Linked DNA regions of Homo sapiens: all the other regions are linked to region 4. The links come from fine-mapping of genetic effects on gene expression. A gene starts in region 4. Each other region holds a variant in brackets. All regions are shown on one strand. Distances are from middle to middle. Region 1 overlaps GAS7 (growth arrest specific 7). Region 2 overlaps GAS7 (growth arrest specific 7). Region 3 overlaps GAS7 (growth arrest specific 7). Region 4 holds the start of GAS7 (growth arrest specific 7). Region 5 overlaps GAS7 (growth arrest specific 7).

Evidence for each region. PIP is the estimated chance that this variant, and not a neighbour inherited with it, causes the effect. A credible set is the group of variants that fine-mapping cannot tell apart.
Region 1: its variant is the best candidate, but not a certain one, in a credible set for the expression of GAS7 in whole blood (INTERVAL, PIP 0.62).
Region 2: its variant is the best candidate, but not a certain one, in a credible set for the expression of GAS7 in monocytes (Fairfax 2014, PIP 0.89).
Region 3: its variant is the best candidate, but not a certain one, in a credible set for the expression of GAS7 in whole blood (INTERVAL, PIP 0.81).
Region 5: its variant is the best candidate, but not a certain one, in a credible set for the expression of GAS7 in whole blood (TOPMed, PIP 0.71).

What each region holds. Positions count from the first base shown.
Region 1 is chr17:10,124,364-10,129,584 of GRCh38, reverse strand. The region is part of intron 1 of GAS7 (growth arrest specific 7); the gene reads left to right. Among named protein-coding and RNA genes, the nearest start is that of GAS7, 72 kb to the left of the region's middle. RefSeq lists an enhancer at 1,618-2,335. The variant G/A (reference allele first, on the strand shown) is at 1,812.
Region 2 is chr17:10,106,465-10,112,609 of GRCh38, reverse strand. The region is part of intron 1 of GAS7 (growth arrest specific 7); the gene reads left to right. Among named protein-coding and RNA genes, the nearest start is that of GAS7, 89 kb to the left of the region's middle. RefSeq lists an enhancer at 4,839-5,380. The variant G/TG (reference allele first, on the strand shown) is at 2,557.
Region 3 is chr17:10,078,020-10,084,164 of GRCh38, reverse strand. All of the region lies in intron 1 of GAS7 (growth arrest specific 7), which reads left to right. Among named protein-coding and RNA genes, the nearest start is that of GAS7, 120 kb to the left of the region's middle. The variant C/G (reference allele first, on the strand shown) is at 3,374.
Region 4 is chr17:10,195,610-10,201,754 of GRCh38, reverse strand. It overlaps GAS7 (growth arrest specific 7), which reads left to right and starts at 3,149. Exons shown (of 14, transcript NM_201433.2): 1 at 3,149-3,547. The coding sequence starts at 3,365.
Region 5 is chr17:9,912,399-9,918,543 of GRCh38, reverse strand. GAS7 (growth arrest specific 7) reads left to right here. Exons shown (of 14, transcript NM_201433.2): 13 at 445-543; 14 at 1,203-6,145. The coding sequence ends at 1,316. Among named protein-coding and RNA genes, the nearest start is that of RCVRN, 10 kb to the right of the region's middle. The variant A/T (reference allele first, on the strand shown) is at 2,891.

The DNA.
Region 1 (5,221 bases), 72 kb after region 4:
GGTCATGAAGATTTACACCTATTTTTTTGAAGAGTTTTTTTGTTTTGTTTTTGAGATGGGGTCTCACTGTCACTCAGGCTGTAATGCAGTGGTGTGATCATAGCTCACTGCAGCCTTGACCTTCCGGTCTCAAACAATCCTCCCACCTCAGCCTCCCAAGTAGCTGGGACTACAGGCATGTGCCACCCTGCCCAGCTAATTTTTAAACCTTTCATAGAGATAGTGTCTTCCTGCGTTGCCCAGGCTGGTCTCAAACTCCTGAGCTCAAGTGATGCACCTACCTCAGCCTCCCATCGTTGCTGGGATTACAGGCATAAGCCATGGTGCCTGGCCAAGAGTGTTCTAGTTTTAGCTCTTACATTTAGTCTTTTGATCCATTTTGAGTTAATTGTATGCCGTGTGAGCAAGGAGTCCAGCTTCATTCTTTTGTATGTTTGTATCTCTCATCGCAGCAGTTTGTTGAAAAGATGGCCCTTTCCCCCATTGAGTGGTCTTGGCGTTTTTGCTATCAAGGCTCCTCTTACCTATGTTATTTATTTAAGTCAAAGGGTGAAAAAATGTCTTCTCATATATGTCTGCTGACCCACAGGGAGATACCAAATCAATCAGGATTATTTAGGTTAAAAGATCATTTGGTTTGGAATTTGAAAAAAGAAAAAGCAGGCCGGGTGCAGTGACTCACGCCTGTAATCCCAGCACTTTGGGAGGCCGAGGTGGGCAGATCACGAGGGAGGTCAGGAGATCGAGACCATCCTGGCTAACACGGTGAAAACCCATGTCTACTACAAATACAAAAAATTAGCTGGGCGCGGTGGTGGGCGCCTGTAATCCCAGCTACTCGGGAGGCTGAGGCAGGAGAATGGTGTGAACCCGGGAGGCGGAGCTTGCAGTGAGCCGAGATCACGCCGCTGCACTCCAGCGTGGGTGACTCTATCTCAAAAAAAAAAAAAAAAGAGAAAAGAAAAAGCAAAACGATCACTTATTTCACTGAAAATGAAAACAGGCAAGGGATGTTGTTGCATAAATGTAAGTAATGAAATGCTGGGTTTTATGTTCTGGCCTAGTTAAGGGGGTGAGAGGGGGAGGCATTTGGCCTCAGCTAGCTTTGGAATTCAATGATCTGTGGATTGATACTCAGAACTGATTGTATCAAGTATGGAATCCCGGGCTGTGGGTTTGTGGGTCTCCCATCCACCCCTCCCGTCCACTCCCTCTAATGGCTCCTGGGAGCAGCCAGAGGTCAGCACAGGGACAACCAGGCAGAGGGAACAGTCGTCTGTGGACTCTCCACAAGTTGTTTCTTGGCCTTGATTTAGGAAGGGGATTAGGAAATTGTTTCCTCTCGAAGTCTGCACCGCAGAGTGGAATCCTGGAGCACTGTGGCCTCCACCTCCCATGTGTGGGTTGGGCACTGGAGCCGCCCCGGAACTGCTGGTGAGGGCTGGGGAGGATGTACGCATGGCCTCCGTGTGTGACTCGGGGGCCCCAGCCGGGGTAGGGCCGAGCCCTGGCTCCCAGGCCTGGCTGGGCTCCCTGGAAACTGGACTGAATCCCTCGCCGGTGCTGCCTCCCCTCGGAGTCCATCCAAGCTGAACGCCTGAGAGCAGAGGATTAGCTAAGCCCCAGATGTTTAGGGGTCTGACTCAGTGTGTGTGTGTGCTCCGTTGAGAGCTTATGTGGCCCGAGTGGTGGTCCTGGAATTTGCTCAGATCTTTGCGTGGGTTCTGGTGTTTAATCAGCATTTCCAAGGAGATGCTTGGGATTCCAGGATTTACTCGATTTACTCAGAGATTCCTCTCCTAGTCCACTTC[G/A]CCTGGTTGGAGCTTGCCCAGTCTTGGGGGTTTAGGGGGACAGAGACTGGGGTCGGTTCACACCTTGGAGGGGGCCTTCTGCCCCTGCTTTCCATCAGAGCCCTGGAATCGGGGGATTTTCTGCGCAAGATCTGGTGTTTTCCTGGTTCAGATTAGTATCTTTAAAATTAAAATTCTTGAATGAGGATTGTGTCCTGCGGCCCTGAGTCTGTCCCTCTGTGAGTGCACAGCTAAAATACTTTCAGGGCTGCTGGGTGGGACTGTTTGATGAGGTGCTGGGGCAAAGAAAAATGGAGCGTTCCCCACAGGAACTTGAGCCCAGGTCTCCTCCAGGCCGTGGACTCGGTGTGCAATACTCCCCGCCTCCTGACCTGCTCATCCCCAGCTGGCACACTCACTTCCTGGGCCATGTTTGGTTCATCTTTACACAGCAGGCTGTGCAAAAGTGAGAGGGCAACATGGGGCCCCTGGAAACCAGGCGTTCCCCTGACGCAAGCTGAGGCTGCATCTGAGGAGGGGCTCGTGGAAGCACTGCTTTCTTCTTCCCAGGGCTTCCTGTTAACTCACTGTCCAGAGCCGTGGAAGGTTAAACTAACTTGATTTAGGGTTCAAAATGCAGGGAGCATCAGCCAGTCATTGGGAACACATGGCCAGCTGGAAATCCACACTCTCCCAATTGTGTAATGTTGCCAATTGATTTAAACTAACAACAACAACAAACAATGTAAGGTGCTGGCCAGCACCTACCAGCAGGCTGGCTCCAACCTTCAGGCCAGTAAACAGCCTGCACTCACACCCAGGTTTCTAGACTCCCAGCCTCTGATGCAATCTCCCTTCAAGGATACCAGGACTCTCTAGGGGAAGAAACAGAGACCCAAAGAGGTTAAAAAAGGTCACACAGCTTAAGCGGCAGAGCTGGGGTTTGAAGCCAGAACTGGTTCACTGTCTGCTGTGCTCTCACTGGGACTAGAGTCAGAGCCGGCTTGGTTCCGGAGCATAGTCTCTTCCCCGTGCCCCACGCTGGGACTGGCTCCTAACCCTCAAAAGAAGGCTGTTGTTTAACAAGTGAGTGGCTTCCCCGAATTCTGGGCACTTCTCAGGAGCAGGAGGAAGATCTTGAGAGAGAGAATATGTGTGTGCGCGAGTGTGTGAGTGTGTCTGCATGTGTGTGAGCGTGTGTGTGTGAATGTGTGTGTTTTCGAGAGTGTGTGCATGTCTGCGTGTGTGCGCTCTTTGTGTGTGTGCTTGTGTGTGCGTGTGTGATACGTGTTTGTGTGTATGTGAGTGGGTGTGAGTGTGCGTGTGTGCATGAGTGCGTGTGCGCGCGCGCGTGTGTGCATCTGCGTGTTTGTGTGTGCGTGTTTGCACGTTTGTGTGTGCATGTGCGTGAGTGTGTGGGTGTGTGTGCAAGAGTGTGTGTGAGTGTATGAGTGTGTGTGTGAGCGTGTGTGTGTGGCATGCACACATTCATGTGCATGTGATTTCTCTTTCCCTCACACCATTCATTAAGGGTTTCTTCCCTGAGAACTCCAGGAAGTTCCAGGAGAACGGACAGGATTAGAGCAAATACTTTCTCCTGTCTGAGAAGCGACTCCCCCATTTAACCCTTCCCCTTCCTTGAGTCCCTGGGACAATCACTGCTGGAGATTTGGTGGCCAGGGAACCCAAATAGTGTGGCCACCACCCCCGACCCCTGCTGTGGGTCCCTGGCAGGTCAGAGGGCTGCTCTGCGATGGGGGCCAGGGAACACATCAGCGCAGGCTTCATACTGCACAGATGGGTTGCACCCGTGGTGGTCAGAACGCACATGGAGCCAGCCTTGTCCAGCTCTCTCTGGCTCTGCTGATTCCAAGTCTGTGATAGGAATCGGGGCGGGTGTATGTGAGGGTAGAGAGGAGTGGAAGGGAAGTGTTTATATAAATAACACAGGGTGGAGGGGCTTCTGAAAGATTTACTAGCTAAATATTTTCCGGATGTTTTCATCATCCTTTAAGGCCCTTCCAGAGGAAGGCTAAACAAGACTTAGTCTAATTCCCCCAGTGGCCAGTGGCTCCCACCCACAGCTGACCCCCTCACACCCGGGCCTCATTCTCTACACCACCCTGCCCTCCTCCCTCCTCATCTCCCCATCACCCTTTACTCCCCTCTTTCATCCAACTGGGAAAGAAAGAACAATCCCCATTTTATCCTTTTATGATCATATTATACACACAGTTGTTTGACCTTTTTTTTTTTTCTTTTTTTTTTTAAGATGGAGTTTCGCTCTTGTCACCCAGGCTGGAGTGCAAGAGTGCAATGGCACCATCTTGGCTCACAGCAACATCTGCCTCCCATGTTCAAGCGATTCTCCTGCCTCAGCCTCCCGAGTAGCTGGGATTACAGGTGCACACCATCACACCCAGCTAATTTTGTGTTTTTAGTAGAGATGGGGTTTCACCATGTTGGCCAGGCTGATCTTGAACTCCTGACCTCCAGTAAGCCATCTGCCTTGGCCTCCCAAAGTGCTGGGATCATAGGCATGAGCCACTGCGCCCAGCCTTGACCTATTTTTTTTAAATTTAATATTCTCAGAATATATTTCTATCATTAAATATATTTACAGGTTTGTTTTAGTGTTTGTTAGTCACAATTTGGATAAACTATTAATTTGCAATCCCCTTATGATGGACACTGAGGTTCTTCCACACCCCCCCTTTTTTTTTTTTTACTGCTATTAAAAATTACTGAAGATAACCATTCCTTGTGATGATATCTTTTTGCACGGAGAGTAATTTCCAGGAAATGTGGACCACTCAAGTGCACATTTTGACCCATGGTGTCATACTGCTCTTTATTTTTATTTATTTATTGAATTTTTTTGAGGATTCTCACTCTGTCACCCAGGCTGAAGTGCAGTAGCGCGAACTCGGCTCACTGCAACCTCCACCTCCCGGGTTCAAGCGATTCTCTTGCCTCAGCCTCCTGAGTAGCTGGGATTACAGGTGCGCACCACCATGCTCAGCTAATTTTTGTATTTTTAGTAGAGACAGGGTTTCACCATGTTGGCCAGGCTGGTCTCCAACTCCGACCTTAGGTGATCCACATGCCTCAGCTCCCCCCCAAACTGCTGGGATTACAGGCGTGAGCCACTGTGCCCGGCCCCACACTGCTCTTTAGAAAGGTTGTACCAAGTCCTTGAGAATATCCAGTGCCCCATTCGCTGGCTAAGCCTGGCATTTGCAGGCCGAAAGAGAGCCAGCAAATCATGAGATCTGTAGCCACCTGCAAATGGTGTGCTGTGGGAGCTAGGCAGGCCAGAGCCCCGATCTGCCAGTGGGGATTTGTGCGCATGTGTGGGGTGCCTAGGATGTCTGGGTTCCTTCCTTCGAGATTTAGTAAGGAACTGTGTTGTGTGGAGGCTGCGCTTTCCT
Region 2 (6,145 bases), 89 kb after region 4:
GCATGTGCCACCATGCCCGGCTAATTTTGTATTTTTAGTAGAGTTGGGGTTTCTCCATGTTGGTCAGGCTGGTCTCGAACTCCTCACCTCAGGTGATCCACCCACCTCAGCCTCTGAAAGTGCTGGGATTACAGGCGTGAGACACCGCGCCCGGCTAGACTCCATTTTCTACATGCTACTCCTATTATCTTTTCCTACTTCCCTCCTCTCTCTCATCTCCATCTGCCCTACCTTGCTCCTGCCTGAGTCTTCCTCTTGTTTTCCAGTGTTCTGTGTCTTCTGCCTCTCCCTTTCCAAAGATAGAGTCTTTTCAGTGAAAAGCCCCACACGTGGGCAAACACCCCTGGAAAGCATCCCTCGCTGTGTGTCTTCGGTCACGTGCTCGAGGATGCATCCACGGTGGAATTGGATGCAGTGACAGCATTTCTCTGCTCCCAGGCTTTTCTAAGTCAGGGAGCTGGAGGTGAAGCTGTAGCAAAGAATGCCTGGAGAGATGCCCTCAGGCAGCACAGCCCAGTAGAACTCTCTGAGGATGGCAATGTTCTACTTTTGTGACGCCCAGTACGGTAGCCACTAACATGTGGCTGGTGCAACTGCGGAAGTGGTTCTTTCATTTGGATTAATTTATATTGAGGGGCTGTATGTGTCCACTGACTACCATATGGGAGAGCACAGGTCTAAACTGTATGCTTTTAGCATGAAAATAAGAGTCTAAGAAGCAGAGTGTATCTGGTCTAGGTTTCCTCAAGTCGAAACACGGCAGCAGTTCTTCATCAGGGTATCCAGGCCCCATGACCTGGTCCAATTTTGGAACTCCCGAATTTCGCCTATTGGAAACACAATTGGGGTTAGGCTGCCAGACCCACCAAGGAGGGTCGCAATTCCCTTGGAATATAGGCCTCCCTTAAAGACTTATTTATTTATTTAGAGACGGAGTCTTGCCCTGTCTCCAGGCTGGAGTGCAGTGGCGTGATCTCGGCTCACTGTACCCTCTGCCTCCTGGGTTCAAGCGATTCTCCTGCCTCAGCCTCCCAAGTATATTTCTGGTTTTTTGTTTGTTTGTTTGTTTGTTTTTTTGAGACAGAGTCTCACTCTGTCACCCAGGCTGGAGTGCAGTGGCACAGTCTTGGCTCACTGCAACGTCCGCCTCCCGGGTTCATGCCATTCTCCTGCCTCAGCCTCCCAAGTAGCTGAGACTACAGGTGCACGACACCACGCCTGGCTATTATTTTGTATTTTTAATAGAGACGGGGTTTCACTGTGTTATCCAACATTGTCTCAATCTCCTTACCCATCATCCGCCCACCTCGGCCTCCCAAAGTTGTGGGATTACAGGCGTGAGCCATTGCGCCTGGCCATTTCTGTATTTTTAGTAGAGACGGGGTTTCACCATGTTGACCAGGCTGGTCTCGAACTCCTGACCTCAAAGGATCCTCCCATCTCAGCCTCCCAAACTGCTAGGATTACAGGTGCCAGCCAAGACACCCGGCCCCCTTAAGGACTTTTGATATCCATAGATGTACACAGCAGTTACTGACCTACAAGTTGTGGACACCAAAGCAAACTAGCCCTGTCTAAATAGAGCATCTTGTGTTATTTTACTTTTTAATCGACGCGTAATGTTTTACATATTTATGGGGTAGATGTGATATTTGGTTGCATGTATAGAATGTATAATAATTGATAAGTCAGGGTATTTGGGGTATCCATAACCTTAGCGTCAGTCATTGCTGTGTGTTGGGAACAAACATTCTTCTAGCTGTTTCAAAATGTGTGATATATTGTTGCTAACTATAATCCCTCTGCTCTGCTATCCAACTTTAGAACTTGTATCTTCTGGCTGGGCGCAGTGGCTCATGCCTGTAATCCCAGCACTTTGGGAGGCTGAGGCGGGCAGATCACTTGAGGTCAGGAGTTCGAGACCAGCCTGACCAATATGGTGAAACACCGTCTCTACTAAAAATACAAAAATCAGCCAGACGTGGTGACATGCACCTGTAGTCCCAACTACTTGGGAGGCTGAGGCTTAGACAGGAGAATTGGTTGAACCCGGGAGACGGAGGTTGCCGTGAGCCAAGATTGCGCCATTGCACTTCAGCCTGGGTGTCACAGCGAGACTCCGTCTTAAAAAAAAAGAAAAGAACTTATATCTTCTGTCTAACTGTATGTTTGTACCCCTTAACCAAACTCTCTTCATCCCCCCTCTTTCCCACACACCCTTCCTAGCCTCTAGTTAACTATCTACTCTCATCTCCACGAGAGCAACTTTTTTAGCTCCTACATATCAGTGAGAACACTGATCTTTGTCTTTCTATGCCTGGCTTATTTAACTTAACATAATAACCTCCAGTTCCGTTCATGTTGCTGCTAATGACATGATTTCTTTCTTTTTCATGCTGAATAGAATTCCACGGTGTATATATACCGCATTTTTTTATCCACTTGTCCATTGATGGACACTTAGGTTGATTCCATAATTTTGCTATTGTGAATCATGCTGCAGTAAACGTGTGAGTACAGGTATCTCTTTGATATCTTTTTTTTTTTTTTTTTTTT[G/TG]AGACGGAGCCTTGCTGTGTCGCCCAGGCTGAAGTGCAATGGCACAATCTCGGCTCACTGCAACCTCCACCTCCCGGGTTCAAGTGATTCTCCTGCCTCATCCTCCCGAATAGCTGGGATTACAGGCGCCCACCACCACGCCCAGCTGATTTTTGTATTTTTAGTACAGAGGGGGTTTTACCACGTTGGCCAGGCTGGTCTCAAACTCCTGACCTCATGATCCACCCGCCTCTGCCTCCCAAAGTGCTGGGATTACAGGCGTGTACCACCGCGCCTGGCCCTGTTTTTGTATTTTTAAGTAGAGACGGAGTTTTGCTATGTTGGCCAGGCTGGTCTTGAACTCCTGATCTCAGGTGATCCACCTGCCTTGGCCTCCCAAAGTGTTGGAATTACAGGCGTGAGCCACTGCTCCTGGCCTGATGTCTTTTGATATCCTGATTTCTTTTTGTTTGGATAAATACCCAGCAGTGGGATTGCTGGATGGTATGGTTGTTCTATTTTTAGTTTTCTGAGAAGTCTCTGTACTGGTTTCCCCAGTGGCTGTACCAATTTGCATTCCCACCAGTAGTGTACAAGAGATCCCATCTTTCCTCATCCTTGGCAGTATCTGTTATTTTTTATCTTTTTAATGATATTTTTTATCTTTTTAATGATAGCTGTTCTAACGGCTGTCATTAGCAGCAACATGAATGGAACTGGAGGTTATTATGTTACCTTAAGTTAAATAAGCCAGGCATACCCGTTCTAACTCTGGCGTAAGATGATAGCTCGTTGTGGTTTTAATTTGAATTTCCCTGGTGATTAGTGATGTTGGGTATTTTTTTATATGCCTGTTAGCAATTTGTATGTCTTCTGTTGAGAATGTCTATTCATGCCCTTTGCCTACTTTTTAATGGTTATTTTATTTTTATTTATTTTTATTTTTTTAAATTTTTTTTGCTGTTGAGTTCCTTGTATATTCTGGCTATTAGTCCCTCATCAGATAAATAGTTTTCAAATATTCTCTCCCATTCAATAGATTGTCTTTCCACTTTGTTGACTGTTTCCTTTGCTTTGTAAAACCTTTTTAGTTTAATATGGGCCCATTTGTCTATTTTTGGTTTTGTTGTCTGTGCTTTTGAGGTCTTAACTGTAAAATCTTTGCCTAGACCAATGTCCTGAAGTGTTCTTTCTAGTAGTTTTATAGTTTCGAGCCTTAGTTTAAGTCTTTAATCCATCTTGAGTTGATTTTTGTATATGGTGAGAGATAGGGGTCCAGTTTTATTCCTCTACGTATGGATATCCAGTTTCCTCAACACCCCTGATTGAAGAGACTGTCCTTTCCTCAATGTGTATTCTTGGTGCTTTTGTTGAAACTCAGTTGGCTGTAAATACATGGATTTATTTCTGGATTCTCTATTCTGTTCCATTGGTCTACGTGCCTGTTTTTATATGAACGTCATGCTATCTGGTTACTCTGCAGTGCAATTTTTAAATATCTGAGCTAAATACAAAGACAGATCCTCCAAAATCTGAAACTTTTTCAGGACTATATGATGCTCAAAGAAAATGCTCACTGGGGCATGCATTAAATAGAAAATCACAGTGCATGGTAGACACACTTGACAGCAATAAGTTAAGCATACCCTGAGAACGACCCTGTGTGGTAGATGCACCAGAATGTGTGTGTGGATTTCCATGCTAAAGAATCAGGCAGTGGCCAACTCAGAGATTCATTCCTTACCTATGAGAAACATCTGAGCCCTTGGCCCGTCCAGTGGAACACAGGCCATATGGAGGACCAAGGCCCTTTCTTTTGGGTTAAATGAAGGTTGCCAGGTGGAGGTTGTTAGGGAGAGGATGCAAAGCAAAAATGCTCTATAAACTGCATGCTTCAGGCAAGTGCTTGCAGTTCTCCTGCCTAGCTGGCCACGCTGGGCCATGTGGTTCTCCAGCCCAGCCCGCCACTGGACTGTGGTACAGTGATTCTCTTGCCCAGACCCCCTCTGGACTATGGTAAGGTGGTTCCCCTGCCAAGCCCTCCACTGGACTGTGGTAAAGTGATTCTCTTGCCCAGTCCCCCACTGGGACTGTGTGTAAGGTGGTTCTCCTGCCCAGCTCCCACTGGACTGTGTGTAAGGCGGTTTCCCTAACCAGCCCACCACCACTGGACTGTGTAAGGCAGTTCCCCTGCCCAGTCCCCTACTGGACTGTGTGTAAGGTGGTTCTCCTACCCAGTCCCCTACTGGACTGTGTGTAAGGCGGTTCTCCTGCCCAGCCCCTCACTGGACTGTGTGTAAGGCGGTTTCCCTAACCAGCTCACCACCAGTGGACTGTGTGTAAGGTGGTTCCCCTGCTCAGCCTGCCACCACTGGACTGTGTGTAAGGTAGTTCTCCTGCCCAGCCCACCACCACTGGACTGTGTAAGGCGGTTCTCCTGCCCAGCCCCCCACTGGACTGTGTGTAAGGCGGTTTCCCTAACCAGCTCACCACCACTGGACTGTGTGTAAGGTGGTTCCCCTGCTCAGCCTGCCACTGGACTATGTGTAAGGTAGTTCTCCTGCCCAGCCCGCCACCACTGGACTGTGTGTAAGGCAGTTCTCCTGCCCAGCCCGCCACCACTGGACTGTATATAAGCTACTTCTCCTTCCCAGCCTGCCACCACTGGACCACTCTGTATGTAAGTTTCCAGCTGATAAAACCCTGTGTCTCATTGGCTGGCTCTGTGTCTCGTCTTTGGCCTCTTGAACCTGGGGCCGTTCCTATAAAGGTTAATGGAGGCCCAGCAAGACAGACAAAGTAGAACTTCACCTTGTAGTGTTATGTAAGAGGAAGTGTGTTAGTTTCCCATTGCTGCTGTAACGAATGCCACAAATGCAGTGACTTAAAATGCATTTATTTACTCATAGTTCTAAGGATCCAAAGTCTGAAATGAGTTTTACAAGGCTAAAAATTAAGGTGTCGGCAGGGCTGGTCCTTCTGGAAGCTCCAAGGAGAATCTGTTCCTTCCTGTTTTCATCCTCTTGAACTCCTTCCTTGGCGCCTGTTTCCACCTTGGTGTAAGGAACCACCTTACCACAGTCCAGTGGGACTGTGGCATCAGCCTCTTTCTTCTTTGACCTTGTCTTCCTCTTAGACCCTGTGATTGCATTTAGAACCTACCCAGATAATCCAGAATAACTCCCCCACCTCAAAATCCTTAAGTCAGTCATGCCCTACAAAGTCCCTTTTGCCATATAAGGTAACATTCACAGGTTCTGGTGATTAAGATATTAATATATTTGGGGGGGGGGGCACTTTCAAGCCTACCACAGCGGGTATCTTTTAATAATTGAAGAAGAGCAGGTTTGTGTGAGAGGACGTTATTCGCCAAGTCGGTCACTCCCCAGGAGTTCTGAGTTGCTGGAATTGGTTAAGTGATCTTTAACTAGAGGCTGGGAAGGGTGTGTGGGTGGGAGCGAGGATGAAGAGAGGTTGAGCTATTCATGTTGAAGGTCTAATGCTCTAAAGATGCAAATCTCAAATCTCCTAAGGAAGGTGGAAAAAGTACAGAGATTCAGACTCTATCCTGCTTCCGTGAGCCTGGACCTGTGTGTTCTTCATTAGCTCT
Region 3 (6,145 bases), 120 kb after region 4:
ATGGAGTCTCGCTCTATTGCCCAGGCTGGAGTGCAGTGGCATGATCTTGCCTCACTGCAAATTCCACCACCCAGGTTTAAGCAATCCTCATGCCGCAGCCTCCCTGTGAGAGCAGCAGGAGGCAGCCAATGCCTAGGTAGGCAGGGGCAGGTCCCTGTGAAACCTCACCTCCAGGCCGAAGACAGCTTAAATCCTGAAAGCCAAGCTACCATTTAAATCCTTGGACCAGACTGAGAACTTGTCTTCCTGTTTGGTGTGCTTTCCTCTGATTGATCCCTACCCTTCACCTATTTTATGTATACCTACCCTTTCCTAATTGGTTTTCTGTACTGCCAGGCCCACTTCTGCGTGGTGTCTTTGCTTTAACCTTTTTTGCATACTCACAAACCAATCAGCATGCACTCCCCATTCTGAGTCCATAAAAGGCCCTGGACCCAGCCACATGGGGGACTTTCCTGCCTTCAGGTAGGGGGACCACCCCTGTGTCCCCTCTGTATTTAAAGCTGTTTCATCATTCAATAAAATTCTTCTCTGTCCTCCTCACACTTCAATGTTCAGTGCATCCTCATTCTTCTTGGATGTGGGACAAGAACTTGGGAATCAGTGCACAAGCCAGACTTGGCCTGGGAAGGCCAACTGGGCAGGGCACCTCCTGCGGCAGATAGCATGCCCTGGGCAAGGCCTCTGGCATCGCCAGCCAGAAGTCCCTGACTGGCAAAGGGACCGAGAAAAATCCTGCATCACCGAGTCACTGGGATTACAGGCGTGCACCACCACACCCAACTAATTTTTGTATTTTTAGTAGAGACAGGGTTTTACCATGTTGGCCACGCTGGTCTTGATCTCCTGACCTCAAGTGATCCACCCATCTCAGCCTCCCAAGTGCTGGGATTACAGGCATGAGCCATCACACCTGGCCTAAAGTCTGTTTAATTTTTAATAAAATATTTAAGTCTACAGAAAATTACAGAGATGTTAACAAATGTATCTGCCATTCGTATTTTTAAAATCAACTTTACTGAGCTATAATTTCTCATGAAATTTATTACATGCGTACAGGCCAATGAGTTGACAAATGTATACACCCTTGCAACCACTACTTGAATTAGTCAGTGTGTAAGACATCTTCCCAGAAAGCTCTCCTTTGCCCCTTTGCAGTCAGTTTCTCTCCTCTGTACCCACTCATCTCTCCAGGTCACTTCTGAATCTGATTTCTATCCTCTAGGTTAGTTTTGTTTGTTCTAGAGTTTCACAGAAATGTGTCATGCAGTATGTACTCTTGAATGTGGCTTCTTTTGCACAGGATAATGTCTGACATTCATCCTCATTGTTGTACCAATGGTTCACCCCTTTTTATTGCTAATGAGAATTCCATTAGTTGAATTTACTGCAATTTGCTTATCCTTTTGTCAATTGATGGACATTTAGGTTGCTTCCATGATTTAGCTATTATGAATAAATCTGCTGTGAACATTTGTGTATAGGTTTTTCGGACACATTTTCACTTTTCTGGCATAAGTACGTAGGAGTGAAATTGCTGGATCATATGGTAAGCATGCATTTAACTTTATAAGAAATGGCAAAACTATTTTCCGAAGTCACTGCTTCAATTTCCTCATCACAGCAGCGTATGAGCTTCTGTTGTTCTACCTCCTTGCCAGCATTAACAAAAATTCTTTTAGCCATTCTAGGGAGTATGATGTAGTTTCCCATGGTGCTTTTATCTTGTATTTTCCTGAAGGTTGATGATGCTGAACATTTTTCATGTGCTTATTACCATCTCTGGATTTGACAAGTATTAACATTGGCCACATGTCAGTCAGAAATAACACATTATTTGACATTAAAAATCCTGTGTGTTCTTCCAATTCCTTTCCCTTCTTTCCTTCTCTTCCTGGAGGCAACCACTGTTCTGGGGTTGGTATGTGTTTCCCATGAGCATGTTTAAAATCTTTATTAACGTGTGTATATCCAAAATACTGTTTAGCAATGTCTTGTTTTGAAACTTACATGAGATGTGCCATACGATATTTATACCTTGGTAATTTACTTTTTTCACACAATGTGTTTTTGAGTTTTTTTCGTGTTGGTGCATGTAGAGCTAGTTCATCTTAACTGCTGCGTACTGTTCTAGCATGTGCATGGGCCACCTTTATCTCCATTGGTGGACACTTTAGGTCATTCTAAGCAATGGTGTAATGCTTATCCTTATGCCTGTCCCCTCGTGTACCGGCCTGGGTATTTCTTGGGTCCATATACCTAGAAGGAAAATATCTGGGTCTGAGAATGTACATCTGGACTTTCCTAAATAGTGTCAAATTGTTTTTCTGAGAGGTTTTGCAAATGCAGACTGCCACCCACAGAGTATCAGAATTTCCATTTGCCTTGCCAACACATCAGACTTCTTATTTTTGCCATCCGAGGGTGTGAAATACCACACCTTGGATTTAACTTGCATTTGCATTTCCTTCATTGCTAGTCAGGTCGTGTCTGTTTTCAAATGTTTATTTACCATTTGAATTTCCTCTCTTGTGGGTTTCCTGTGCATTCTCTGCTCATTTTTCTATTTCGCAGTCTTTCAGTCATTGCTTTACCGCTTCATTTTCTAATGATGTATTTTGTCATGCAAAACTTTTTTGTTGCAATCTAGTCAAATTTATTAATCGATTACTTTAGGGATTTTGCTTTTTATGCCTCATTTAAGAACTCTTGGCTGGGCACAGTGGCTCACACCTGTAATCCCAGCACTTTGGGAGGCCGAGGCGGGTGGATCACAAGGTCAGGAGTTCGAGACCAGCCTGACCAACATGGTGAAACCCCGTCTCTACAAAAAAATACAAAAATTAGCTGGGTGTGGTGGCACATGCCTGTAATCCCAGCTACTCAGGAGGCTGAGGCAGGAGAATCGCTTGAACCTGGGAGGGGAAGGTTTCAGTGAGCTGAGATCGCGCCATCGCACTCCAGCCTAGGCAACAAGAGCGAGACTCCGTCTCAAGAAAAAAAAAACTCTTATGGTGAGGTCATATATGGTCTTAACTTTTCTGAAAGTTTTAAAGATTTTTGTTTGATGTTGAGATCTTTGATCCATTTGTAATTTCCTTTTATTGTTTGTTATAAGGCAAGAGCCCAATTGTACTCTTTTTCTGAGGAGCCTGTCATCTTGTTATTACTTATTTTAAAAAATCCCTCTATTCTCACCTCGCTGATTTGATGACCACCTTTGCTGTATGTTTTTATAAATGTGTGTTCTGTTGCTGGGGTCTTTCTTCTGGTTTCATTGGACTATTTGTCTATCTGTTCACTATTTTAATTGTAACTTTGCAAGAAGTTTTACTATCTGATGGAATAAGTCCTCATTCTTCTTCAAAATTGT[C/G]TTGGATGTTCTTGGCCCTTGACTATTTCCTGTGAATTCTAGGATTACCTCCTTGAGTTCTATGAACAACTATTGCATTAAAATGGCACTACGTTTTGAGATTAATTTGAGAAGAAAGATCTCCTTGGTAATATTGGGCTTCCTATCTAGAAACAAGTTGTATATTCCCATTGATCTAGATCTTCTTTATTGTATCTCAGTGTTACTGGAAAGGGGTCCTGAACCAGACCCCAAGACAGCGTTCTTGGATCTTATGCAAGAAAGAATTTGGGGAGAGTTCATGGAGTAAAGCTAAAGCAAGTTTATTAAGAAAGTAAAGGAATGAAAGAATGGCTACTTCATAGGTAGAGCAGCTCTGAGGGCTGCTGGTTGCCTATTTTTATGGTTATTTCTTGATTATATGCCAAATAAGGGGTGGATTATTCATGAATTTTCCAGGAAAGGTGGCAGGGGCAGGGGGCAGTTCCTGGAACTGAGGGCTCCTCCCCTTTATAGACCATATAGGGTAACTTCCTGGCATCTGTCAACTGTCATGGTGCTGGTGGGAATGTCTCTTAGCATGCTAATACATTATAATTAGCGTATAATGAGCAGCGAGGATGACCAGAGGTCAGTTTTGTTGCCATCTTGGTTTTGGTGGGTTTTGGCCGGCTTCTTTGGCACAGCCTGTTCTACCAACAAGGTCTTTATGACCTGTATCTTGTGGCCACCTCCTATCTCATCCTGTGACTTAGAATGCCAAATCTACTAGGAGTGCAGCCCAGTAGGTCTCAGACTTATCTTTTACCCAGCCTCTATACAAGATGGAGTCACTCTGGTTCAAACACCTCCAAAGTCAGTACATTACATTGTCTCCATATAAGTCTTTTACTCTTTAGTTATATTTACTCATAGCTCACTTATAGTTTTGTTGCCATTGTGCGTGGTGTATTTTTTTTCTTTAAATTTGATGTTGTCAATGAAAAGAGTGAAACTCTGTCGAATATTTGAAGAGTTTTATTCTGAGCTAAATATGAGTGACCATGACCGTGTCACAGTCCTCAGGAGGTCCTGAGAACATGTGGCCAAGGTGGTCAGGGCGCCGCTTAGTTTTTATACATTTTAGGGAGATATGATCAGTCAAATACATTTAAGATATACATTGGTTTGGTCCAGAAAGGTGGGACAGCTTGAAGCTGGGGTTTCCAGGTTATAGGTAGATCTAAAATTTTTCTAATTGGCAGTTGATTGAAAGACTTATCAATAGAAAGGAATGTTGCAATAAGAGACCAAAGTTTCATCATTTAGATGAAGCCTCCAGGTAGCAGGCTTCAGAGAGAATAGGTTGTAAGTATTTCTTATCAGACATAAGGTCTGTGTTGAAGTTAATGCTGGAGGGTTGTAATGAAGCATGTCTGATCCCCATTTCCCTTCATGATCTGAACCAGTCTTTCAGGTTAAACTTTAGAGTATCCTGGCCAAGGAGGATGTCCATTCAGATAGTTGGAAGGACTTAGAATTTTATTTTCGGTTTACAGTGTTTATGTTTATTTTTATCAAAGTAATAGAGTTTTAAAAGAGCATTCTCCTACCATACTCCACCCCAAATGCTTCTCAGAGTCCACCACTTGTAACAATGGGGCTTTATCTCCATTTGGGGTTTTTGTTATTTTAGAGAGAAGGGTTTGCTGTGTCACCCAGCCAGGAGTCCAGTGGTGTGATCATAGCTCACTGCATCCTCTGCTTTGGTCTGTCGCTCTTCAAGTCTGAACAGTTGTCATCTTGATCTTTCTTCACCATCATCTGATTACTTTCCTTTCTTTCTCTTCTTTCTCTGCTCAAGCGATCTTCCCACCTCAGCTTCCCAAGTAGCTGGGACTACAGGAATGCACCATCACACCTGGCTAATTAAAAAAATTTTTTTTTGTAGAGATAGAGGTTTTGCTATGTGGCCCAGGCTGGTCTTGAACTCCTGGCCTCAAGCAGTCCTCCCGCCTTGGCCTCCCGAAGCACTGGGATTATAGGCATGAGCTGCTGCACCTGGCCCTTTTTCTAAATGATATGTTTATACTGTTGTATATCCCCCTACCTACCAATTTTACACACTGTCTATTGAACTTCTTATTGCAGAAGATTAGACCTGGCTTTTCCACCAACACTTTACTTTTTCCTTTCCTCCATATATAACCTCTTCCCTCACCTCCCACAATGGTGGTCCTATGGTGATATCAGGGTCTGGTGTTTATATTATTATGCCAGTGTAAATTACAACTGAGCTACTGATTGCCTTCTACTTCTTTGGTGGAACAACAACAAGAAAGCAAATAAATAAAAACAAAAGCAATTGGTTTTATTTACTTGGTTTTCTCTGTCCCTTGCACCAATTCTTCTCTCTTCACTAGCCCTTTAAAAACTTCCACAGGCTAGGTGCGGTGACTCATGCCTGTAATCCCACCACTTTGGGAGGCTGAGGCAGGTTGATCTCTTGAGCCCAGGAGTTTGAGAGCAGCCTGAGCAACATGGCAAAACCCCATCTGTACTAAAAATACAAAAATTAGCCAGGCATGGTGGTGCACGTCTGCAGTTTCAGCTACTGGGGAGCCTGAGGTGGGAGGATTGCTCAAGCCTGGGAGATCGAGACTGCAGTGAGCTGTGATTGCACCACTGTACTCCAGCCTAGGTGACAGAGTGAGATCCTGTCTCCAAAACAAAACAAAACAAAACAAAACAAAACACACACACACACACACACACACACAACAGAAAAAACAACAAACTTCCGCATGTACTGTC
Region 4 (6,145 bases):
TGTCTTCTTGTAGTGATGAGGAAAATGACGCTCAGAGACGTAAGTAAATCACCCAATGCCACACAGCTAGAAAGTGGCAGAAATGGGGTTTGAATAAAGGCAGTCCAGAGCCAACATATTTAACCACTAACTACATTTAACCATTTAAATTCCCATATTCCAGTTACTGGATTCGATCTCCAATTACAGACGGGGAAATAGACCCAAAGGTATGGGAAGACTTGAGGATTTGGAGGTTACCTGATTGATAAGAGATCAGCAACAGGAGTTCCACTAACTGCTAGTCCAGTCTTATTTCTATGAAGACTGACATTGGGTATCACCAGAGAGTCTTTTCTTTTCTTTTCTTTTCTTTTTTCTGAGATGGAGTCTTGCTCTGTCGCCAGGCTGGAGTACAGTGGCGTGATCTCGGCTCACTGCAACCTCCACCTTCCAGGTTCAAGCGATTCTCCTGCCTCAGCCTCCTGAGTAGCTGGGATTACAGGCACGCGGCACCACACCTAGCTAATTTTTGTATTTTTAGTAAAGATGGGGTTTCACCATGTTGGCCAGACTGGTCTCAATCTGCTGGCCTCGTGATCCGCCCGCCTTGGCCTCCCAAAGTGTGGGGATTACAGGCATAAGCTCTCACAGGCTGTGCCCAGCCTAGAGAACTTTCTCTTAAGATGCTATTTGTGGGTGAGTCACTAGGATACCTGCTTTCTGACTGGCAGGGGGGACGACAGAAAGCAACACCAGTGTACAATAAGCTAGAATTGAGTTCAAAGCTGATTCTGCTGTTGACCAGCTGTATGATGGTGAGCAAGTCACACTCTTTGAGCCCAGTTTCTTTACCTGAAAACTGGGACAACAGTCACCTCATCAGCTCGTAGGATTACAGGAATGAAATGAATTAAGTGGAGAAATTAACAGCTATTATCATTTTTGGTTGCTGCAGGAATGTTTGAGGTGGGTCAGGTAGAACTCAAGTGTATGGCATGCTGTGTAGGCTGCGATTTCTCAAGTCCAAACTGGATCACAGTTCCTCACGGGCATGCAGAGAATTAGGGTTGCAGGATGGCTGGAAATCAGTTGTCCTACCTTGATTCAGGCCACATCATCAGGAATGAAGCCTCAGAACAGCCTGCTGGAAGTCACATATTTTCCTGATACAAGGAATTGTATCTCTTTTAAAACTTCATTGGGCCAGCTATTTTTAATGACTGTTTTTGATATGAAGTTATGCAGCTCCGCTTTAAGGGACTCTTAGTGGTGACTGTGGTCAAGAGTTTGTTTCTTTATATTTCCGGCCAAGCGAATGTTCAAGACTTTGCAATTGATGGACTATTACAAATAATCTGCTTGTGTCACTTTGCCCATGGCCAGAGAACAGATGGAGGCTGCTCAGGTGAGATGGCTTAGCTGCAGACTAGGGCTCAGTAGTGACTCTTAAAACCTGGGCATGAGTATTTTTAAAAAGTTGCATAATGACTGTAATGTGCAGCCAGGATTGAGAACCATTGAACTAGGTGAAAGGCTCTGTGCCAGGGTCTGATTCAAAGCATAGACAGGTGCGCAAGATCTTCAGGCTCTTGGAGCCCGGCCTGACTGGTTTTGTAATGGATATCTAGGCAGTCATAGTAAGAGGTGAAGCTAGAGGAGGCGTTGTGGAGGGCCTGAAATGTACAGGCAGAGAAGTTTGTACCAAATTTAAAAGGCAATAGGGAGCCACAGAAGGTGACTGGGGGAGGGGGGAAGGAGTAGACAGAGGTATACAGGCGTATTAAAGGGTCCAGCTTTTTTTTTTTTTGAGACGGAGTTTCACCCTTGTTACCCAGGCTGGAATGCAGTGGTATGATCTCCGCCCACTGCAACTTCCACCTCCCGGGTTCAAGCCATTCTCCTGCCTCAGCCTCCTGAGTAGCTGGGATTACAGGCACCCGCCACCACGCCCGGCTAATTTTTGTATTTTTAGTGGAGATGGGGTTTCACCTTGTTGGCCAGGCTGGTCTTGAACTCCTGACCTCAAGTGAGCCATTCGCCTCAGCCTCCCAAAGTGCTGGGATTACAGGCGTGAGCCACCGCGCCTGGCCGAGTCCAGCTATTTACAGGCTAAAAAATGTACTTTATTTTATTTCTTTAAAATTTTTTATGGAGTAGACTAGCAAAGAAACCAAGCTTTCTTTTACTTCTGTACGGTCAGTTCAAGGTCAACATTCTGCAGCACTCAGGTTCACTGGTCCCTGGAGAGCAGGGACTGGCCCAAATGATGTTTGTAGTACCTGGCACATCGCATGGAACATGGCAGCCTCCTGGTAATGTTTGTTGACTGACTACATGAGTGTAGACTCTTTAGCCAACCCATCTCGATTTCGGGAGGGCTGGTACCCTGGGCCGGCCTTCCCTCTGCAAGTAAAAGCATTGGTGCTGTTCCTCTCACCGTTCGCCTTTCCTCCATTTATCCCCATCGACTGTTTCCAATTCTATCAACTCCGACCCCGTCTTCTCTCCATTCCGTCCCTCCAGCGTGCCACGCTGCCACCAGGCTGCTGGGCTCAGGCGCCAGGCTTCAAACCTGTCTTTCACCCATTGTTCAGTTTCCGGTGAGACAAGTTCAACCCCAGGTTCAACCACTACAATGACAACCACAAACGATCCCTCGCAGACACCTCGAAGAAGCCGCCCGCACGCCACGGGCCGCCAGGCCTACAAAGCAGGCACAGAACAGAGGGGCGTTTCCATTCCCGCGGTCCCCGGCGGTGGGGGCGCGAGTGGGAGCCCCTCTCCCCAGTGACAGGCCCCTCTGCGAGGGAGCGCGCAGCCCTCCGCGGGCGTGGCCGCCCTGGCCCCGCCCCGGCCCGCCCCCTCGCCAGTGAGCTAACCCCCGCCCGGCCACCCGGCCGCCAGCTCCTCTCCACGGCCGCCCGCCGCGGAGTCCTGCCGCGGGGGATGCTCCGGGTCCCACCTCCCGGGGGAGCTGCGCATTTCCGCGCGCCAGGGCGGCCCCGGCCCCGGTCCCGGCCCCGGCCCCGGCCAGCCCTCGCGGCGGCAGCCCGCGTTCCGCGTTCCCGGGAAGTTGTCTCCGGAGCCCGCGGCGCCTGGGTCTCCTCCCCCTGAGCCCCGCCCCCCAGCCCAGAGCTAGGATCCGCGAGCTGCCCGGCCCGGGGGCGTCGCCGCTCGCTCTGCGAAGCCAACGAGTCTCTGCTTCCCGGCGCGGAGCGCGCGTCCCCCGCCTGCCTGAGGACCCCCGCGCACCCCAGAGACGGCGCGCGCCCAGAGCGCGGGAGCCCGGAGCGCCGGGCGCCTGGGACCCCGCGGAGCCGCTGCCCAGCCCGTGGGGCTCGGCGGGAATGCAGGCTGCGCTGTGAACCCGGGCGCCAAGGCCATGTCCGGCGCTCGCTGCCGGACCCTGTACCCCTTCTCCGGGGAGCGGCACGGCCAGGGGCTGCGCTTCGCCGCGGGCGAGCTGATCACGCTGCTGCAGGTCCCGGACGGCGGCTGGTGGGAAGGCGAGAAGGAGGACGGGCTCCGTGGCTGGTTCCCGGCGAGCTACGTGCAGTTGCTGGAGGTAAGGGGCGAGGGCCGGGGCTGTAGGAGCCGGGGCTGCGGTCCTCGGTGCGCTCGCGTACCTGTTGCCCGTTCCGGGGATGCCGCAGCGTCCCGGTCGGAGGGGCGCCCCGGGGGGCAGCCCTTGCCGGCGCTACCTGTAGCTCCACGCTCCTGGGGGGCAGCGACGGCAGCGGGCGCCCCTCGGGGCGTGGGCAACGCGGACTCGCGGGGAGCTTCCACCTTGCGCCGGGCCTCCGGAGCACACCGTGGCTGCTCTGAGGAAGCGAGAACTTGTTGCCTGTGTGAGTTAAGGAGCAGGCGGGAGCGTTCCCGGCAGTGGCAGGGGCCGGTGAAGGGTCTGGCGGTCTTGGGAAGAGGCACGGAGGATCAGGGGTGCGAGAAAGTGGCACCGACTCGGTCCCGCAGCCCCGCGTCTCCACCCCGGAGTCTAGAGCCTGATGACCCGTGGACGGTCGTGCTGCCTTGGGTCAGGCTGCCTGGCCGCCTCGGGACCACCCACTTGCTGGTCAGCCGAGCCTGCTGGCCACCAGCCCGAGCCCCCTCAGCAGGCTTGATCCTGGGGTGCCGTAGCACCCCCCGCCACTGCCTGCTCCCCTGGTCCAGCTCCCCGAGGCTAAGGCTCAGAACCCGAAAGTGGCTTGTTCCTGGGGTTCTGGCCTGGCCCCAGGGCTGCACAGGACCTGCTGAGGCAAGGCGGCTGGCTGTTTATTGTCTATGTGACAGGCTGTCCTCTAATCACTGAGCTCGCAGTCACAGCCTGAGTGAGACCCGAAGTTTCTAAAGTCCTTTGTGTGTGGGGGGGTGACCTTCCAGGACATCCCCTTTACTAGAAGCCCGCCTGCCCCCAGGATTCTTGTAAAGACTAAATTAACAGTTACCTTCAATGGTGTCAGTATTCCTAAACATTCTGGTAAAACACTGCCGGAAGAAATCATGGAGGCTGAATTTATTTATTATTTAACTCTTGACCTACTTCACAGAGAAAGTAGCAAATTTTGACTGAGAATGCTCAGTGCAATTCATCGGGGGCGGGGGGAAGAAAGAAAGAAGTGAAATGGTTACAGGGTGAGTCCGCCTGAGGATGTATCCTGTGGCAACATTGTCAGCAAGAGCCTGGCCTTATAAAAGTACATTAGATTGCTTTCAGGTCCAGAGAACAACAAAATCTCTCCTAAAGGCATCAGTAGCATTTGAGCAAAGTTTAGGGGCTGCTGGAATGAGCTTTCATGGGCTGTCAGCAGAGTATGTTGCAGGAACCCTCTTGGTTCTGTATCTGGAGAATCCGGAGATACCCTACTTGTAGGAGAGGCTCAGGTGTGCCCTGCCCTGGCTTTTCCAGTTCCTTTCCCGAGATTCGGATGTAAAAGAAAGCGAACGTATTGCTTCTTACATGAGAAGCAAGGGGCCTCCTTGTTTCTAGCTTGAAGCCCTGGGATAGATACGTATTTTGGGAGTTCTTCGGGTGGTCACCCTTTTCCAGGAAATTCTGATGTGGAAATTTGGCTGATGGATGTCTGTCCGGTGAGGAGCATCCCTGGCTGGACTGAGCCAGCTGTGTTTTGTGTAGGGGTGAGGCTGGGTAGGTGTTAGTTAGCAAGAGTGGAGTGCTGCTTTTTCTTCCGGGAAAGGGACGATGGACCAGGGCCAGGGGACAAGCGGAATTAACAACTGGGACAGTTTTGGGTGTGTCTGTCCCATCCTCTGGCATATACAAAGGTAAGAGATCTCTGGTGTCTCAGGGCCTCTCAGACCATTCCTGACTAGTAACTTGCAACAGAAGCATCCATCTGCGTGAGCAATACTTCTGAGCACCTGCTTGGCACAGTGTGTGCACGTTATCACCAGTTCCCTGACAGCTCTGTGAAGGGTGAGGTACTTCCCCCATTTTATAGACAAGCAAGCTGAATATGAGAGAGGCGAAGTCAGCTCCCCAACTAGTAATGCTTGCGTGTTTTGTTAGCAGCTCAGATGACTGAGTATCACCCCCTGCGCCTGTGCCTTTTTTAAACATGATAGCCCGGGCTCAACTATGCCAAACAGCGTGTGAGCGAAGGGTCTGGATCCATGGGGAAAAGGGGCATGCGCAGCCCCTGAGGTCAGCATGTTGGTGACAGCACCGCGAAGGGGAGGCTGAACCTCTAGGGCTAAAACGAGGACAGCTGCATCCAGGAGCAACTTGGAGGATCTTCCCTGCTAACCCCAAAGTGTGACTTTACTCAGAACCAGCTGGGGGTCTTCCCACAGTGGGCCCGAGTCCTGTATCCTAAGTACTGGGTGGGACTCTTCTCAGGGCCAAAGCAGATGCAGTTTCAACAGGGGGGCATGTGGGTCAGGTGCTTGGCATCTGGGAACCTCCTACATGAGCAAGTTGGACCTCAAGGCTGAAGGCTAGGTAGAGATAGAGGACATGCAAGCAGAGTTGCTTGGGATGGGGTGAGTCCTGAAGGGCAGACTCAGAGAATGCAGAGGTCCCCAGGCTGGTGGGTAGACTGGCCAGCATCTGGACTCATGAGACTAGAGAGGGGGCCCATAGATACTGGAGATGGCGAACCTCATGAGATGTCAGCCAATGTGGTGCTGTCACTCAGCTTGCTTG
Region 5 (6,145 bases), 280 kb after region 4:
GGGCCAGGGCTGCATGGGTGCATTGCCATGAGTAACAGCCTGATGGACTCTGGTTTAAATCCTGTTCCTCCCATAATTCCGTGTCGCTTTGGGTGAGCTGTGTTGTTGCCTCTCTAGGTGTTAGTTCCCCAGTTCCCTTGCTTGGAGAATGGGGATAATAACAGAAACGATCTCTTAAAATTGTAACGAGGACAGTTAAGGAACGCACGTAAAGCCCTCAGCACTGTGCGTGGCGGAGCAGGATTTCAGGAAGTAAAACAGCCGCTGCTGCTGTCATCAGCTTCACCTTCACCTTAGATATGGGGCACGCTCTTCATCAGACCCCAGAGAGTCAGATGGGACAGAATGTCCACAGCCAGTGACTTGCGTTTTGTGGTCTTGGTGGGGGGACCCCCAAGTGGAGGGGACGTGCTCAGAGTTCTCTGGCCTTTGCTTTCTCGGCAGGAGCTAGAGCGGCTGGAGGTGGAGAGGGTAGAGATGATCCGGCAGCACCTGTGCCAGTACACGCAGCTGCGGCATGAAACAGACATGTTCAACCAAAGCGTGAGTTTCCAGCCCAGCGGGGCTCCCGGGCGACACGGGGCCTGGGGAGAGCCGCCTGGCGCTAGGCCGTGGCAGGTTAAGTGGCTGCTGCAAGTGAATCTGCCCTAAAGGCGGGCAGTGGGCAGGTGCTCTGGCCTGGGGGTGGCCTCGTGGACTGGGCCTCTCAGGATTGTCCTGGACGTCTGTGTGATTCCGACCCTGGCACATGAAGTGGACACACACGTGAGCTGTTACCCTGAGGAGAAAGAAGCTCGTAACAGTTACAGTAGCTGAAGACATTATTAAATTTCTTAAAAAACAAAACCAAAAAAAACAACTTCTAGAAATATTCACAATACCTAAAGCTCAAGTTTTATTTGTCCTGTTCACTGGTGGTAAATGTGGGGTGGAAGGGATAGAGACAGGTTTTAAGGCCCTCCTGGCCTCTCATCCAGGCCTGGGGTCTGCAGGGTGAGAAGCAGGGTCGGGATGCATACTGGGTTCCCCGTTCACAGCCCTCTTCATGTGCTGTCCCTCAGATGGGCCTCCCCCTGGGGCCCCGGAGCCCTCTAGAGAGGCTGCTCTCAGAGACACTAAGGTGAGGACAGCATGTCTCAGAGGAGACCTCCCTGGCTTGGCCGCCGTCTCTAACAGTGTCGCATTTTCTCTGTCTCTTGCAGACAGTCGAGCCCGTGGATCAGCTGCTTCGAAAAGTGGACCCGGCCAAAGACAGGGAGCTGTGGGTCAGAGAGCACAAGACGGGCAACATCCGCCCTGTGGACATGGAGATCTAGATGGGCCTGTGCAGCTTCGGGGGGTCCTGCTGGGGAGGGGGGCTGGGCTCCCACCATGGGGCCCATGCCGAGTGGATGCCCCCCACCCTCTCTCCTGGGCCACTGAGGAGAGGGGAGAGAGCTGGTGATTCCAGAAGGGTGACCCGGACAGCCTAGCTGGGGGCTCCCCCATATTCCCAGGCCCAGAAGACAGACCCACAGCCCTGCCCTTGTCTCTGAGGCTGAAGACCCCCTGACTCCCATGCTGTGCTTGCCGCTCTGAAACAAACAGAGGCTGGAACTTTGTGGTCCTTGCCGAGTTTTGTAGGGGTCACTGTCACATGCTTGTGCCCTGGAAGCCCCAAGGCTCTTCCTCCAGCTGGCTCCCTTGTCTCCAGGGCTTTGGAGGATCAGGGTAGGGAGGGCTCTGTCTCTAAGCCAGGTGTCAGGATCAGAATCATGGGTAGAAGGTGCCATTCAGCTCACAGCCGCACCCAGAATCCTTTGCAGCCCTCCTTCTTTATTTTTTTCCCATTGCATTCTGGGAGTCCACATCTGGCTTTCTCAGCCACTGTTCATCACCAGGGGTTTTAGGAGGAAGGCTTGGCTCCTGTCTTCCCAGACCCACCATGCCTGGAGAGGTCAGGATGGAACTACCTCATTCGGCAAATTAGCCCCAAATTGAGCGCTGAATCGTGTCCCATGAGATCAGGCGCCATCTGTAAAGTCTCCTCTGGAAATGCCAATCCATCCTTCCCCCAGCTGCTTCCTCGGGGAGGCCCCTGCCCCCACCCTGCCAGCCCTTCCCAGTCTCATTAGAGGAAGCTTTCCAAAGTTCTCAGTTATCAAGACCTCATCCAGCTCGTCCAAAGGCTTCAGGGATGGAAACAAACCAGCTCGTCTCAGAGGCCAGCAAGCTGGGGCCTGTCCGCCACGGTGCCCTGTGCACCTTTGGGCTGCCCTGGCCCCCACTCTCCCGGGCCGCCCACCACAGGCTCTTAATGGGGCCGGGTCAGTCCTACATGTGAGATGGGTTAGGGCAAGTCTTTGCCATCCCCCAGATGGCTCTGTCTTCTTGTGTATGGCAGGGCTGGGACTGCTGTCCCTTGTACAGTTTTCTGTCACTGGTGGGCACTGGACAGGCATAGCAGACTCTCTTGTGGCCACACTAGGTTGTCGCCTTTCAGGCAGTGTCCCGCCACCTTTGCTTCCCGCTCCTTCTGGACATTCCAGAGCCCTGCACCAAACCCTTACTTGGTGTCTGCACCTCCTTTCCCTCTCTCCATCTTCCAATCCCTGGAAAAGTCTGGTCTGAGTGTGACTTGGGAAGCTTTCAGTGCTGCTGTTTGGCCCAGCTCATTACTTTCTCCCTTTCTCTACCACAGCAAACACATTCTCCACCATGTCAGTCTAAAGAGTCTAAAGGGGCCGGGAGAAGCATGAGCGAGGGGCAGATTCTAGTCGGGAGCCCATGCCCTGGAAATCCATCTTTCTTCATCTTTCCCATTGACCACTTTGGGTTTGACCTGCACATCTGCAGTGAGGGCAGAATTCAACAAGCACAACTCACTGGTCTTTCAGTCAACGTGCTAGAA[A/T]CCGATGACTTATTAATCTCTAATTTTTTGGCGCCTCTTTCATTGAATGAGAATTGCTTTCGTATAGTTCACATTAGAAAAATGCCTAATATACTAAAGTAAACCAAACGTTGTCACTTTTCTCTTGTTCTTGAAACATTGCAACCAAAAAGGTCAGCACAAAGGCCTTCACCTACGTGAAGACCTCCTGGTAGGATCTGTCCATGGGATGGAGAACCACTCTGTCCAGATCTGGGGTTGGGTCATGACACCAGCTACCAATTTTAGAATATTATTTCTTGGTTTCTTTATGAAAAATGGGTGCTAGTGGTAATTGCTTTGTGGCTTAGTAAACTACTCTGTGGATGATTTCCAAACATTCAAAGCCAATAGCCTTGTTATTAACAAGATATTTTGAGTACAATATGGCTCATTGACTTTTCCATTACATCTGAGGATTCCAGAGTCCTCTGTTCATCCCTGGGATAGAGTGAGCCCTCTTGCGTCTTCCAGGGTAGCTCAGGTTGGCCCAGTTTGGGCCAGTCCATTTTTGGAGGTCACTCTTTCCCCCCTCATCCCCTCACCTCCTTCTCTTTACCCCCTTCACGTACTTCCTTTCTTTCTTCCCTCTGTTATTCATTCATCAAGCAGGTTAAAGCCATTGTGCTAAGATCTAATCTGAGGACACTATAATGGCCCTGTCGTCAGGGAAGCCCGTGATCGCTCGTTTTCAGGGGTCTTACCGGTCAGCAACCTTGGCATTGATACATAGGCACTCTACAGAATTTAAGTTTTCAGAGGTAAGTCTGTTGTTCTGATTAATCTGCATTCATTCAGCGAATGCTCAAGACAAGCCAGGCATGCTGAGAAGCGGCGCTCTAGTTGTATGTAAGATGGGCATTCCTCTGCTCTCCTCTATTCTCCATGTCGACTGAGAAGAGTATAATAAGAACATTGTACCCTCTCCACACTTAACCCTCTGGGATTCTTTATTATAATATAAACCACCGTCGTGAGGCATTTACCTGTTGGATGGAAGGTAGACAGCAACAAGATTTTAATCACCTGGTCACCAGACCCTCACGGCCCATATCCAATTCGAATTTCAGAAATTTCTCTGTTTGCTTTAAATAACTCTTTACAAATAAGGGTCGGGCACGGTGGCTCACGCCTGTAATCCCAGCTCTTTGGGAGGCCGAGGTGGGCAGATCACGAGGTCAGGAGATCGAGACCATCCTGGCTAACATGGTGAAACCCCGTCTCTGCTAAAAATACAAAAAATTAGCCAGATGTGGTGGTGCACACCTGTAGTCCCAACTATTCGGCAGGCTGAGGCAGTAGAATCGCTTGAACCTGGGAGGCGGAGATTGCAGTGAACCAAGATCGGGCCACTGCACTCCAGCTTGGGTGACAGAGCAAGACTCCATCTCAAAAAAATTATAAATAACTCTTTGCAAATAGGAAAGTGAAGCTCAAGGGTAACCAGTGAGGCTATGAAATTGCCAGTGAATTAAGACCAGGGCTAGAGTCAACAGTCCAGAACCCCTATCCGTATGAACAGGGGCCCGTTTCTGGTTGAAATCAAGGTTAGGATGCAACTGAGAAAATAAAAGACTGCACTTTGGAGAGGCAAGCACGCTATCCGGGTTGTTGTTTTGTTTTATGTCTTGGTGCTTAGGTGAGGACTTAGCTGGGTTTATTCAAAGTGGGCGGGTCTGGGCTATTCTTGAGAATGTCCCTTCCATTTCTGAGAACAAGTCAGCCCCTTCTACCTGCCTCCACCCAGGAGACTGATGCACAAGATCTGTTTGTGAAAGCCTGATTTAAAAAGAAAAAAAAAATTCCTTAAGCCAAATGGTGTTCCAAGTTGGTTGCTGTGACAACCTCCAGGAAGAGCCACTTGTTACCCTCTATTCTTTCTAGTGCTTTCAGTCAGTGGCAACACATAGGCCCCTTGGACCGTGGGGATGGCGGCCCTGAGATTCTGTCAGTGGGACCACCCTGGGCCTCCTTTCTACCTCCACTCAGCACCCTGTTGGCCAAGGAGAATTTCTGCGGTGGGAGGCAGTGCTCTGCTAGTCAGGATTGATAAACAGCTGGGCACACCGAAACAGTGTACCAACGAATTCACCAACCAGGGGTTTCTTTCCCTACCCTTTGTGAAAACCAATCAATTACTAGATGAGTGGATGGATGCAGAAAAATCTGGGCTGAGCCAAAGTCCCTTTTGGAAATACAAGCCATAACATTCGAAGGACATCAGCGACCTTGGCTTGTTTAGGTGATTTTACTTCCAGCTGCAGGTAGTCTTGACAAGGAGTGTTTAAACAGAAGGCTCAAGATGCATTCCTTGTGTAGGTCGGAGAGAGCACTTCTAATGTTAAGTGGGGTACAGATCAGCTGCCCCCCCACGTAGCCTGGACATCGTCTTATCCCCATAATCCTTGCCATCCCTACAAGGCCCATCGCCACCACCTTTTCCCAGGTTTATTGAGGTATGATTGACATCCAGTAAAATTCACCCTTTGGAAATATACAGCTCTGTGAATTTTGACAAATTTAGTGTCTTGTGACCATCACCAAGATCAACCTGTTTTTAACCCTCCAAAAAATTCCCTTCTCCTGCCCTCTTTCCCTGGCAACCCTGATTGATTATCTGATCCTATAATTTTGCCTTTTCTAGAATGTCATATAAATGGAGTCACACTGATGTCGCCTTTTGAGTCTGGCATCTTTCCCTCAGCTTAATGCTTTTGAGTCATTCATGATGTGTGCGTGTGGTTTGTTCCTTCTCCTTGCCGGGAAGTATTTCATTGCATGGGCGTACTACTCTGCTTCTTTATTTTTACACTGAGCCTTTCGCCCTGGAAGTTCTTGGCCCAGGGTCTTCAACTTGTTTGCACGACCACTTCCAGCTTGCTGCTTCCTTCAGTTCCCCAGGCTCCTCCTCCAAATGCCAGCTGTGCCCACAAGCTGTTCTTAGGGCTCACACTCGCCTTTTGGCGCGTGGTGGGTTTTTGGTAGTGCAGAAAGAATCCAGGGATGGGAGGGGAAGGGACGGATGGGTGCTCAATTGCTGCTCACGTCTGCTGCAACCTGAAGCTTGCATCTCAGCCAGCAGATCTGCTCCCTTCTGGGACCCAGGCTTCAGTGTCACACGGTCCTTGGCTATGTATTGGGCGTTGGAGGCTTTGAAAGGCGAGCAGAAGCAGCATGGACAAGAAGGCTGGGGCTGGCCCTGGGGCTCATCATGATGCTTTCCTGGATCTGTTGCTT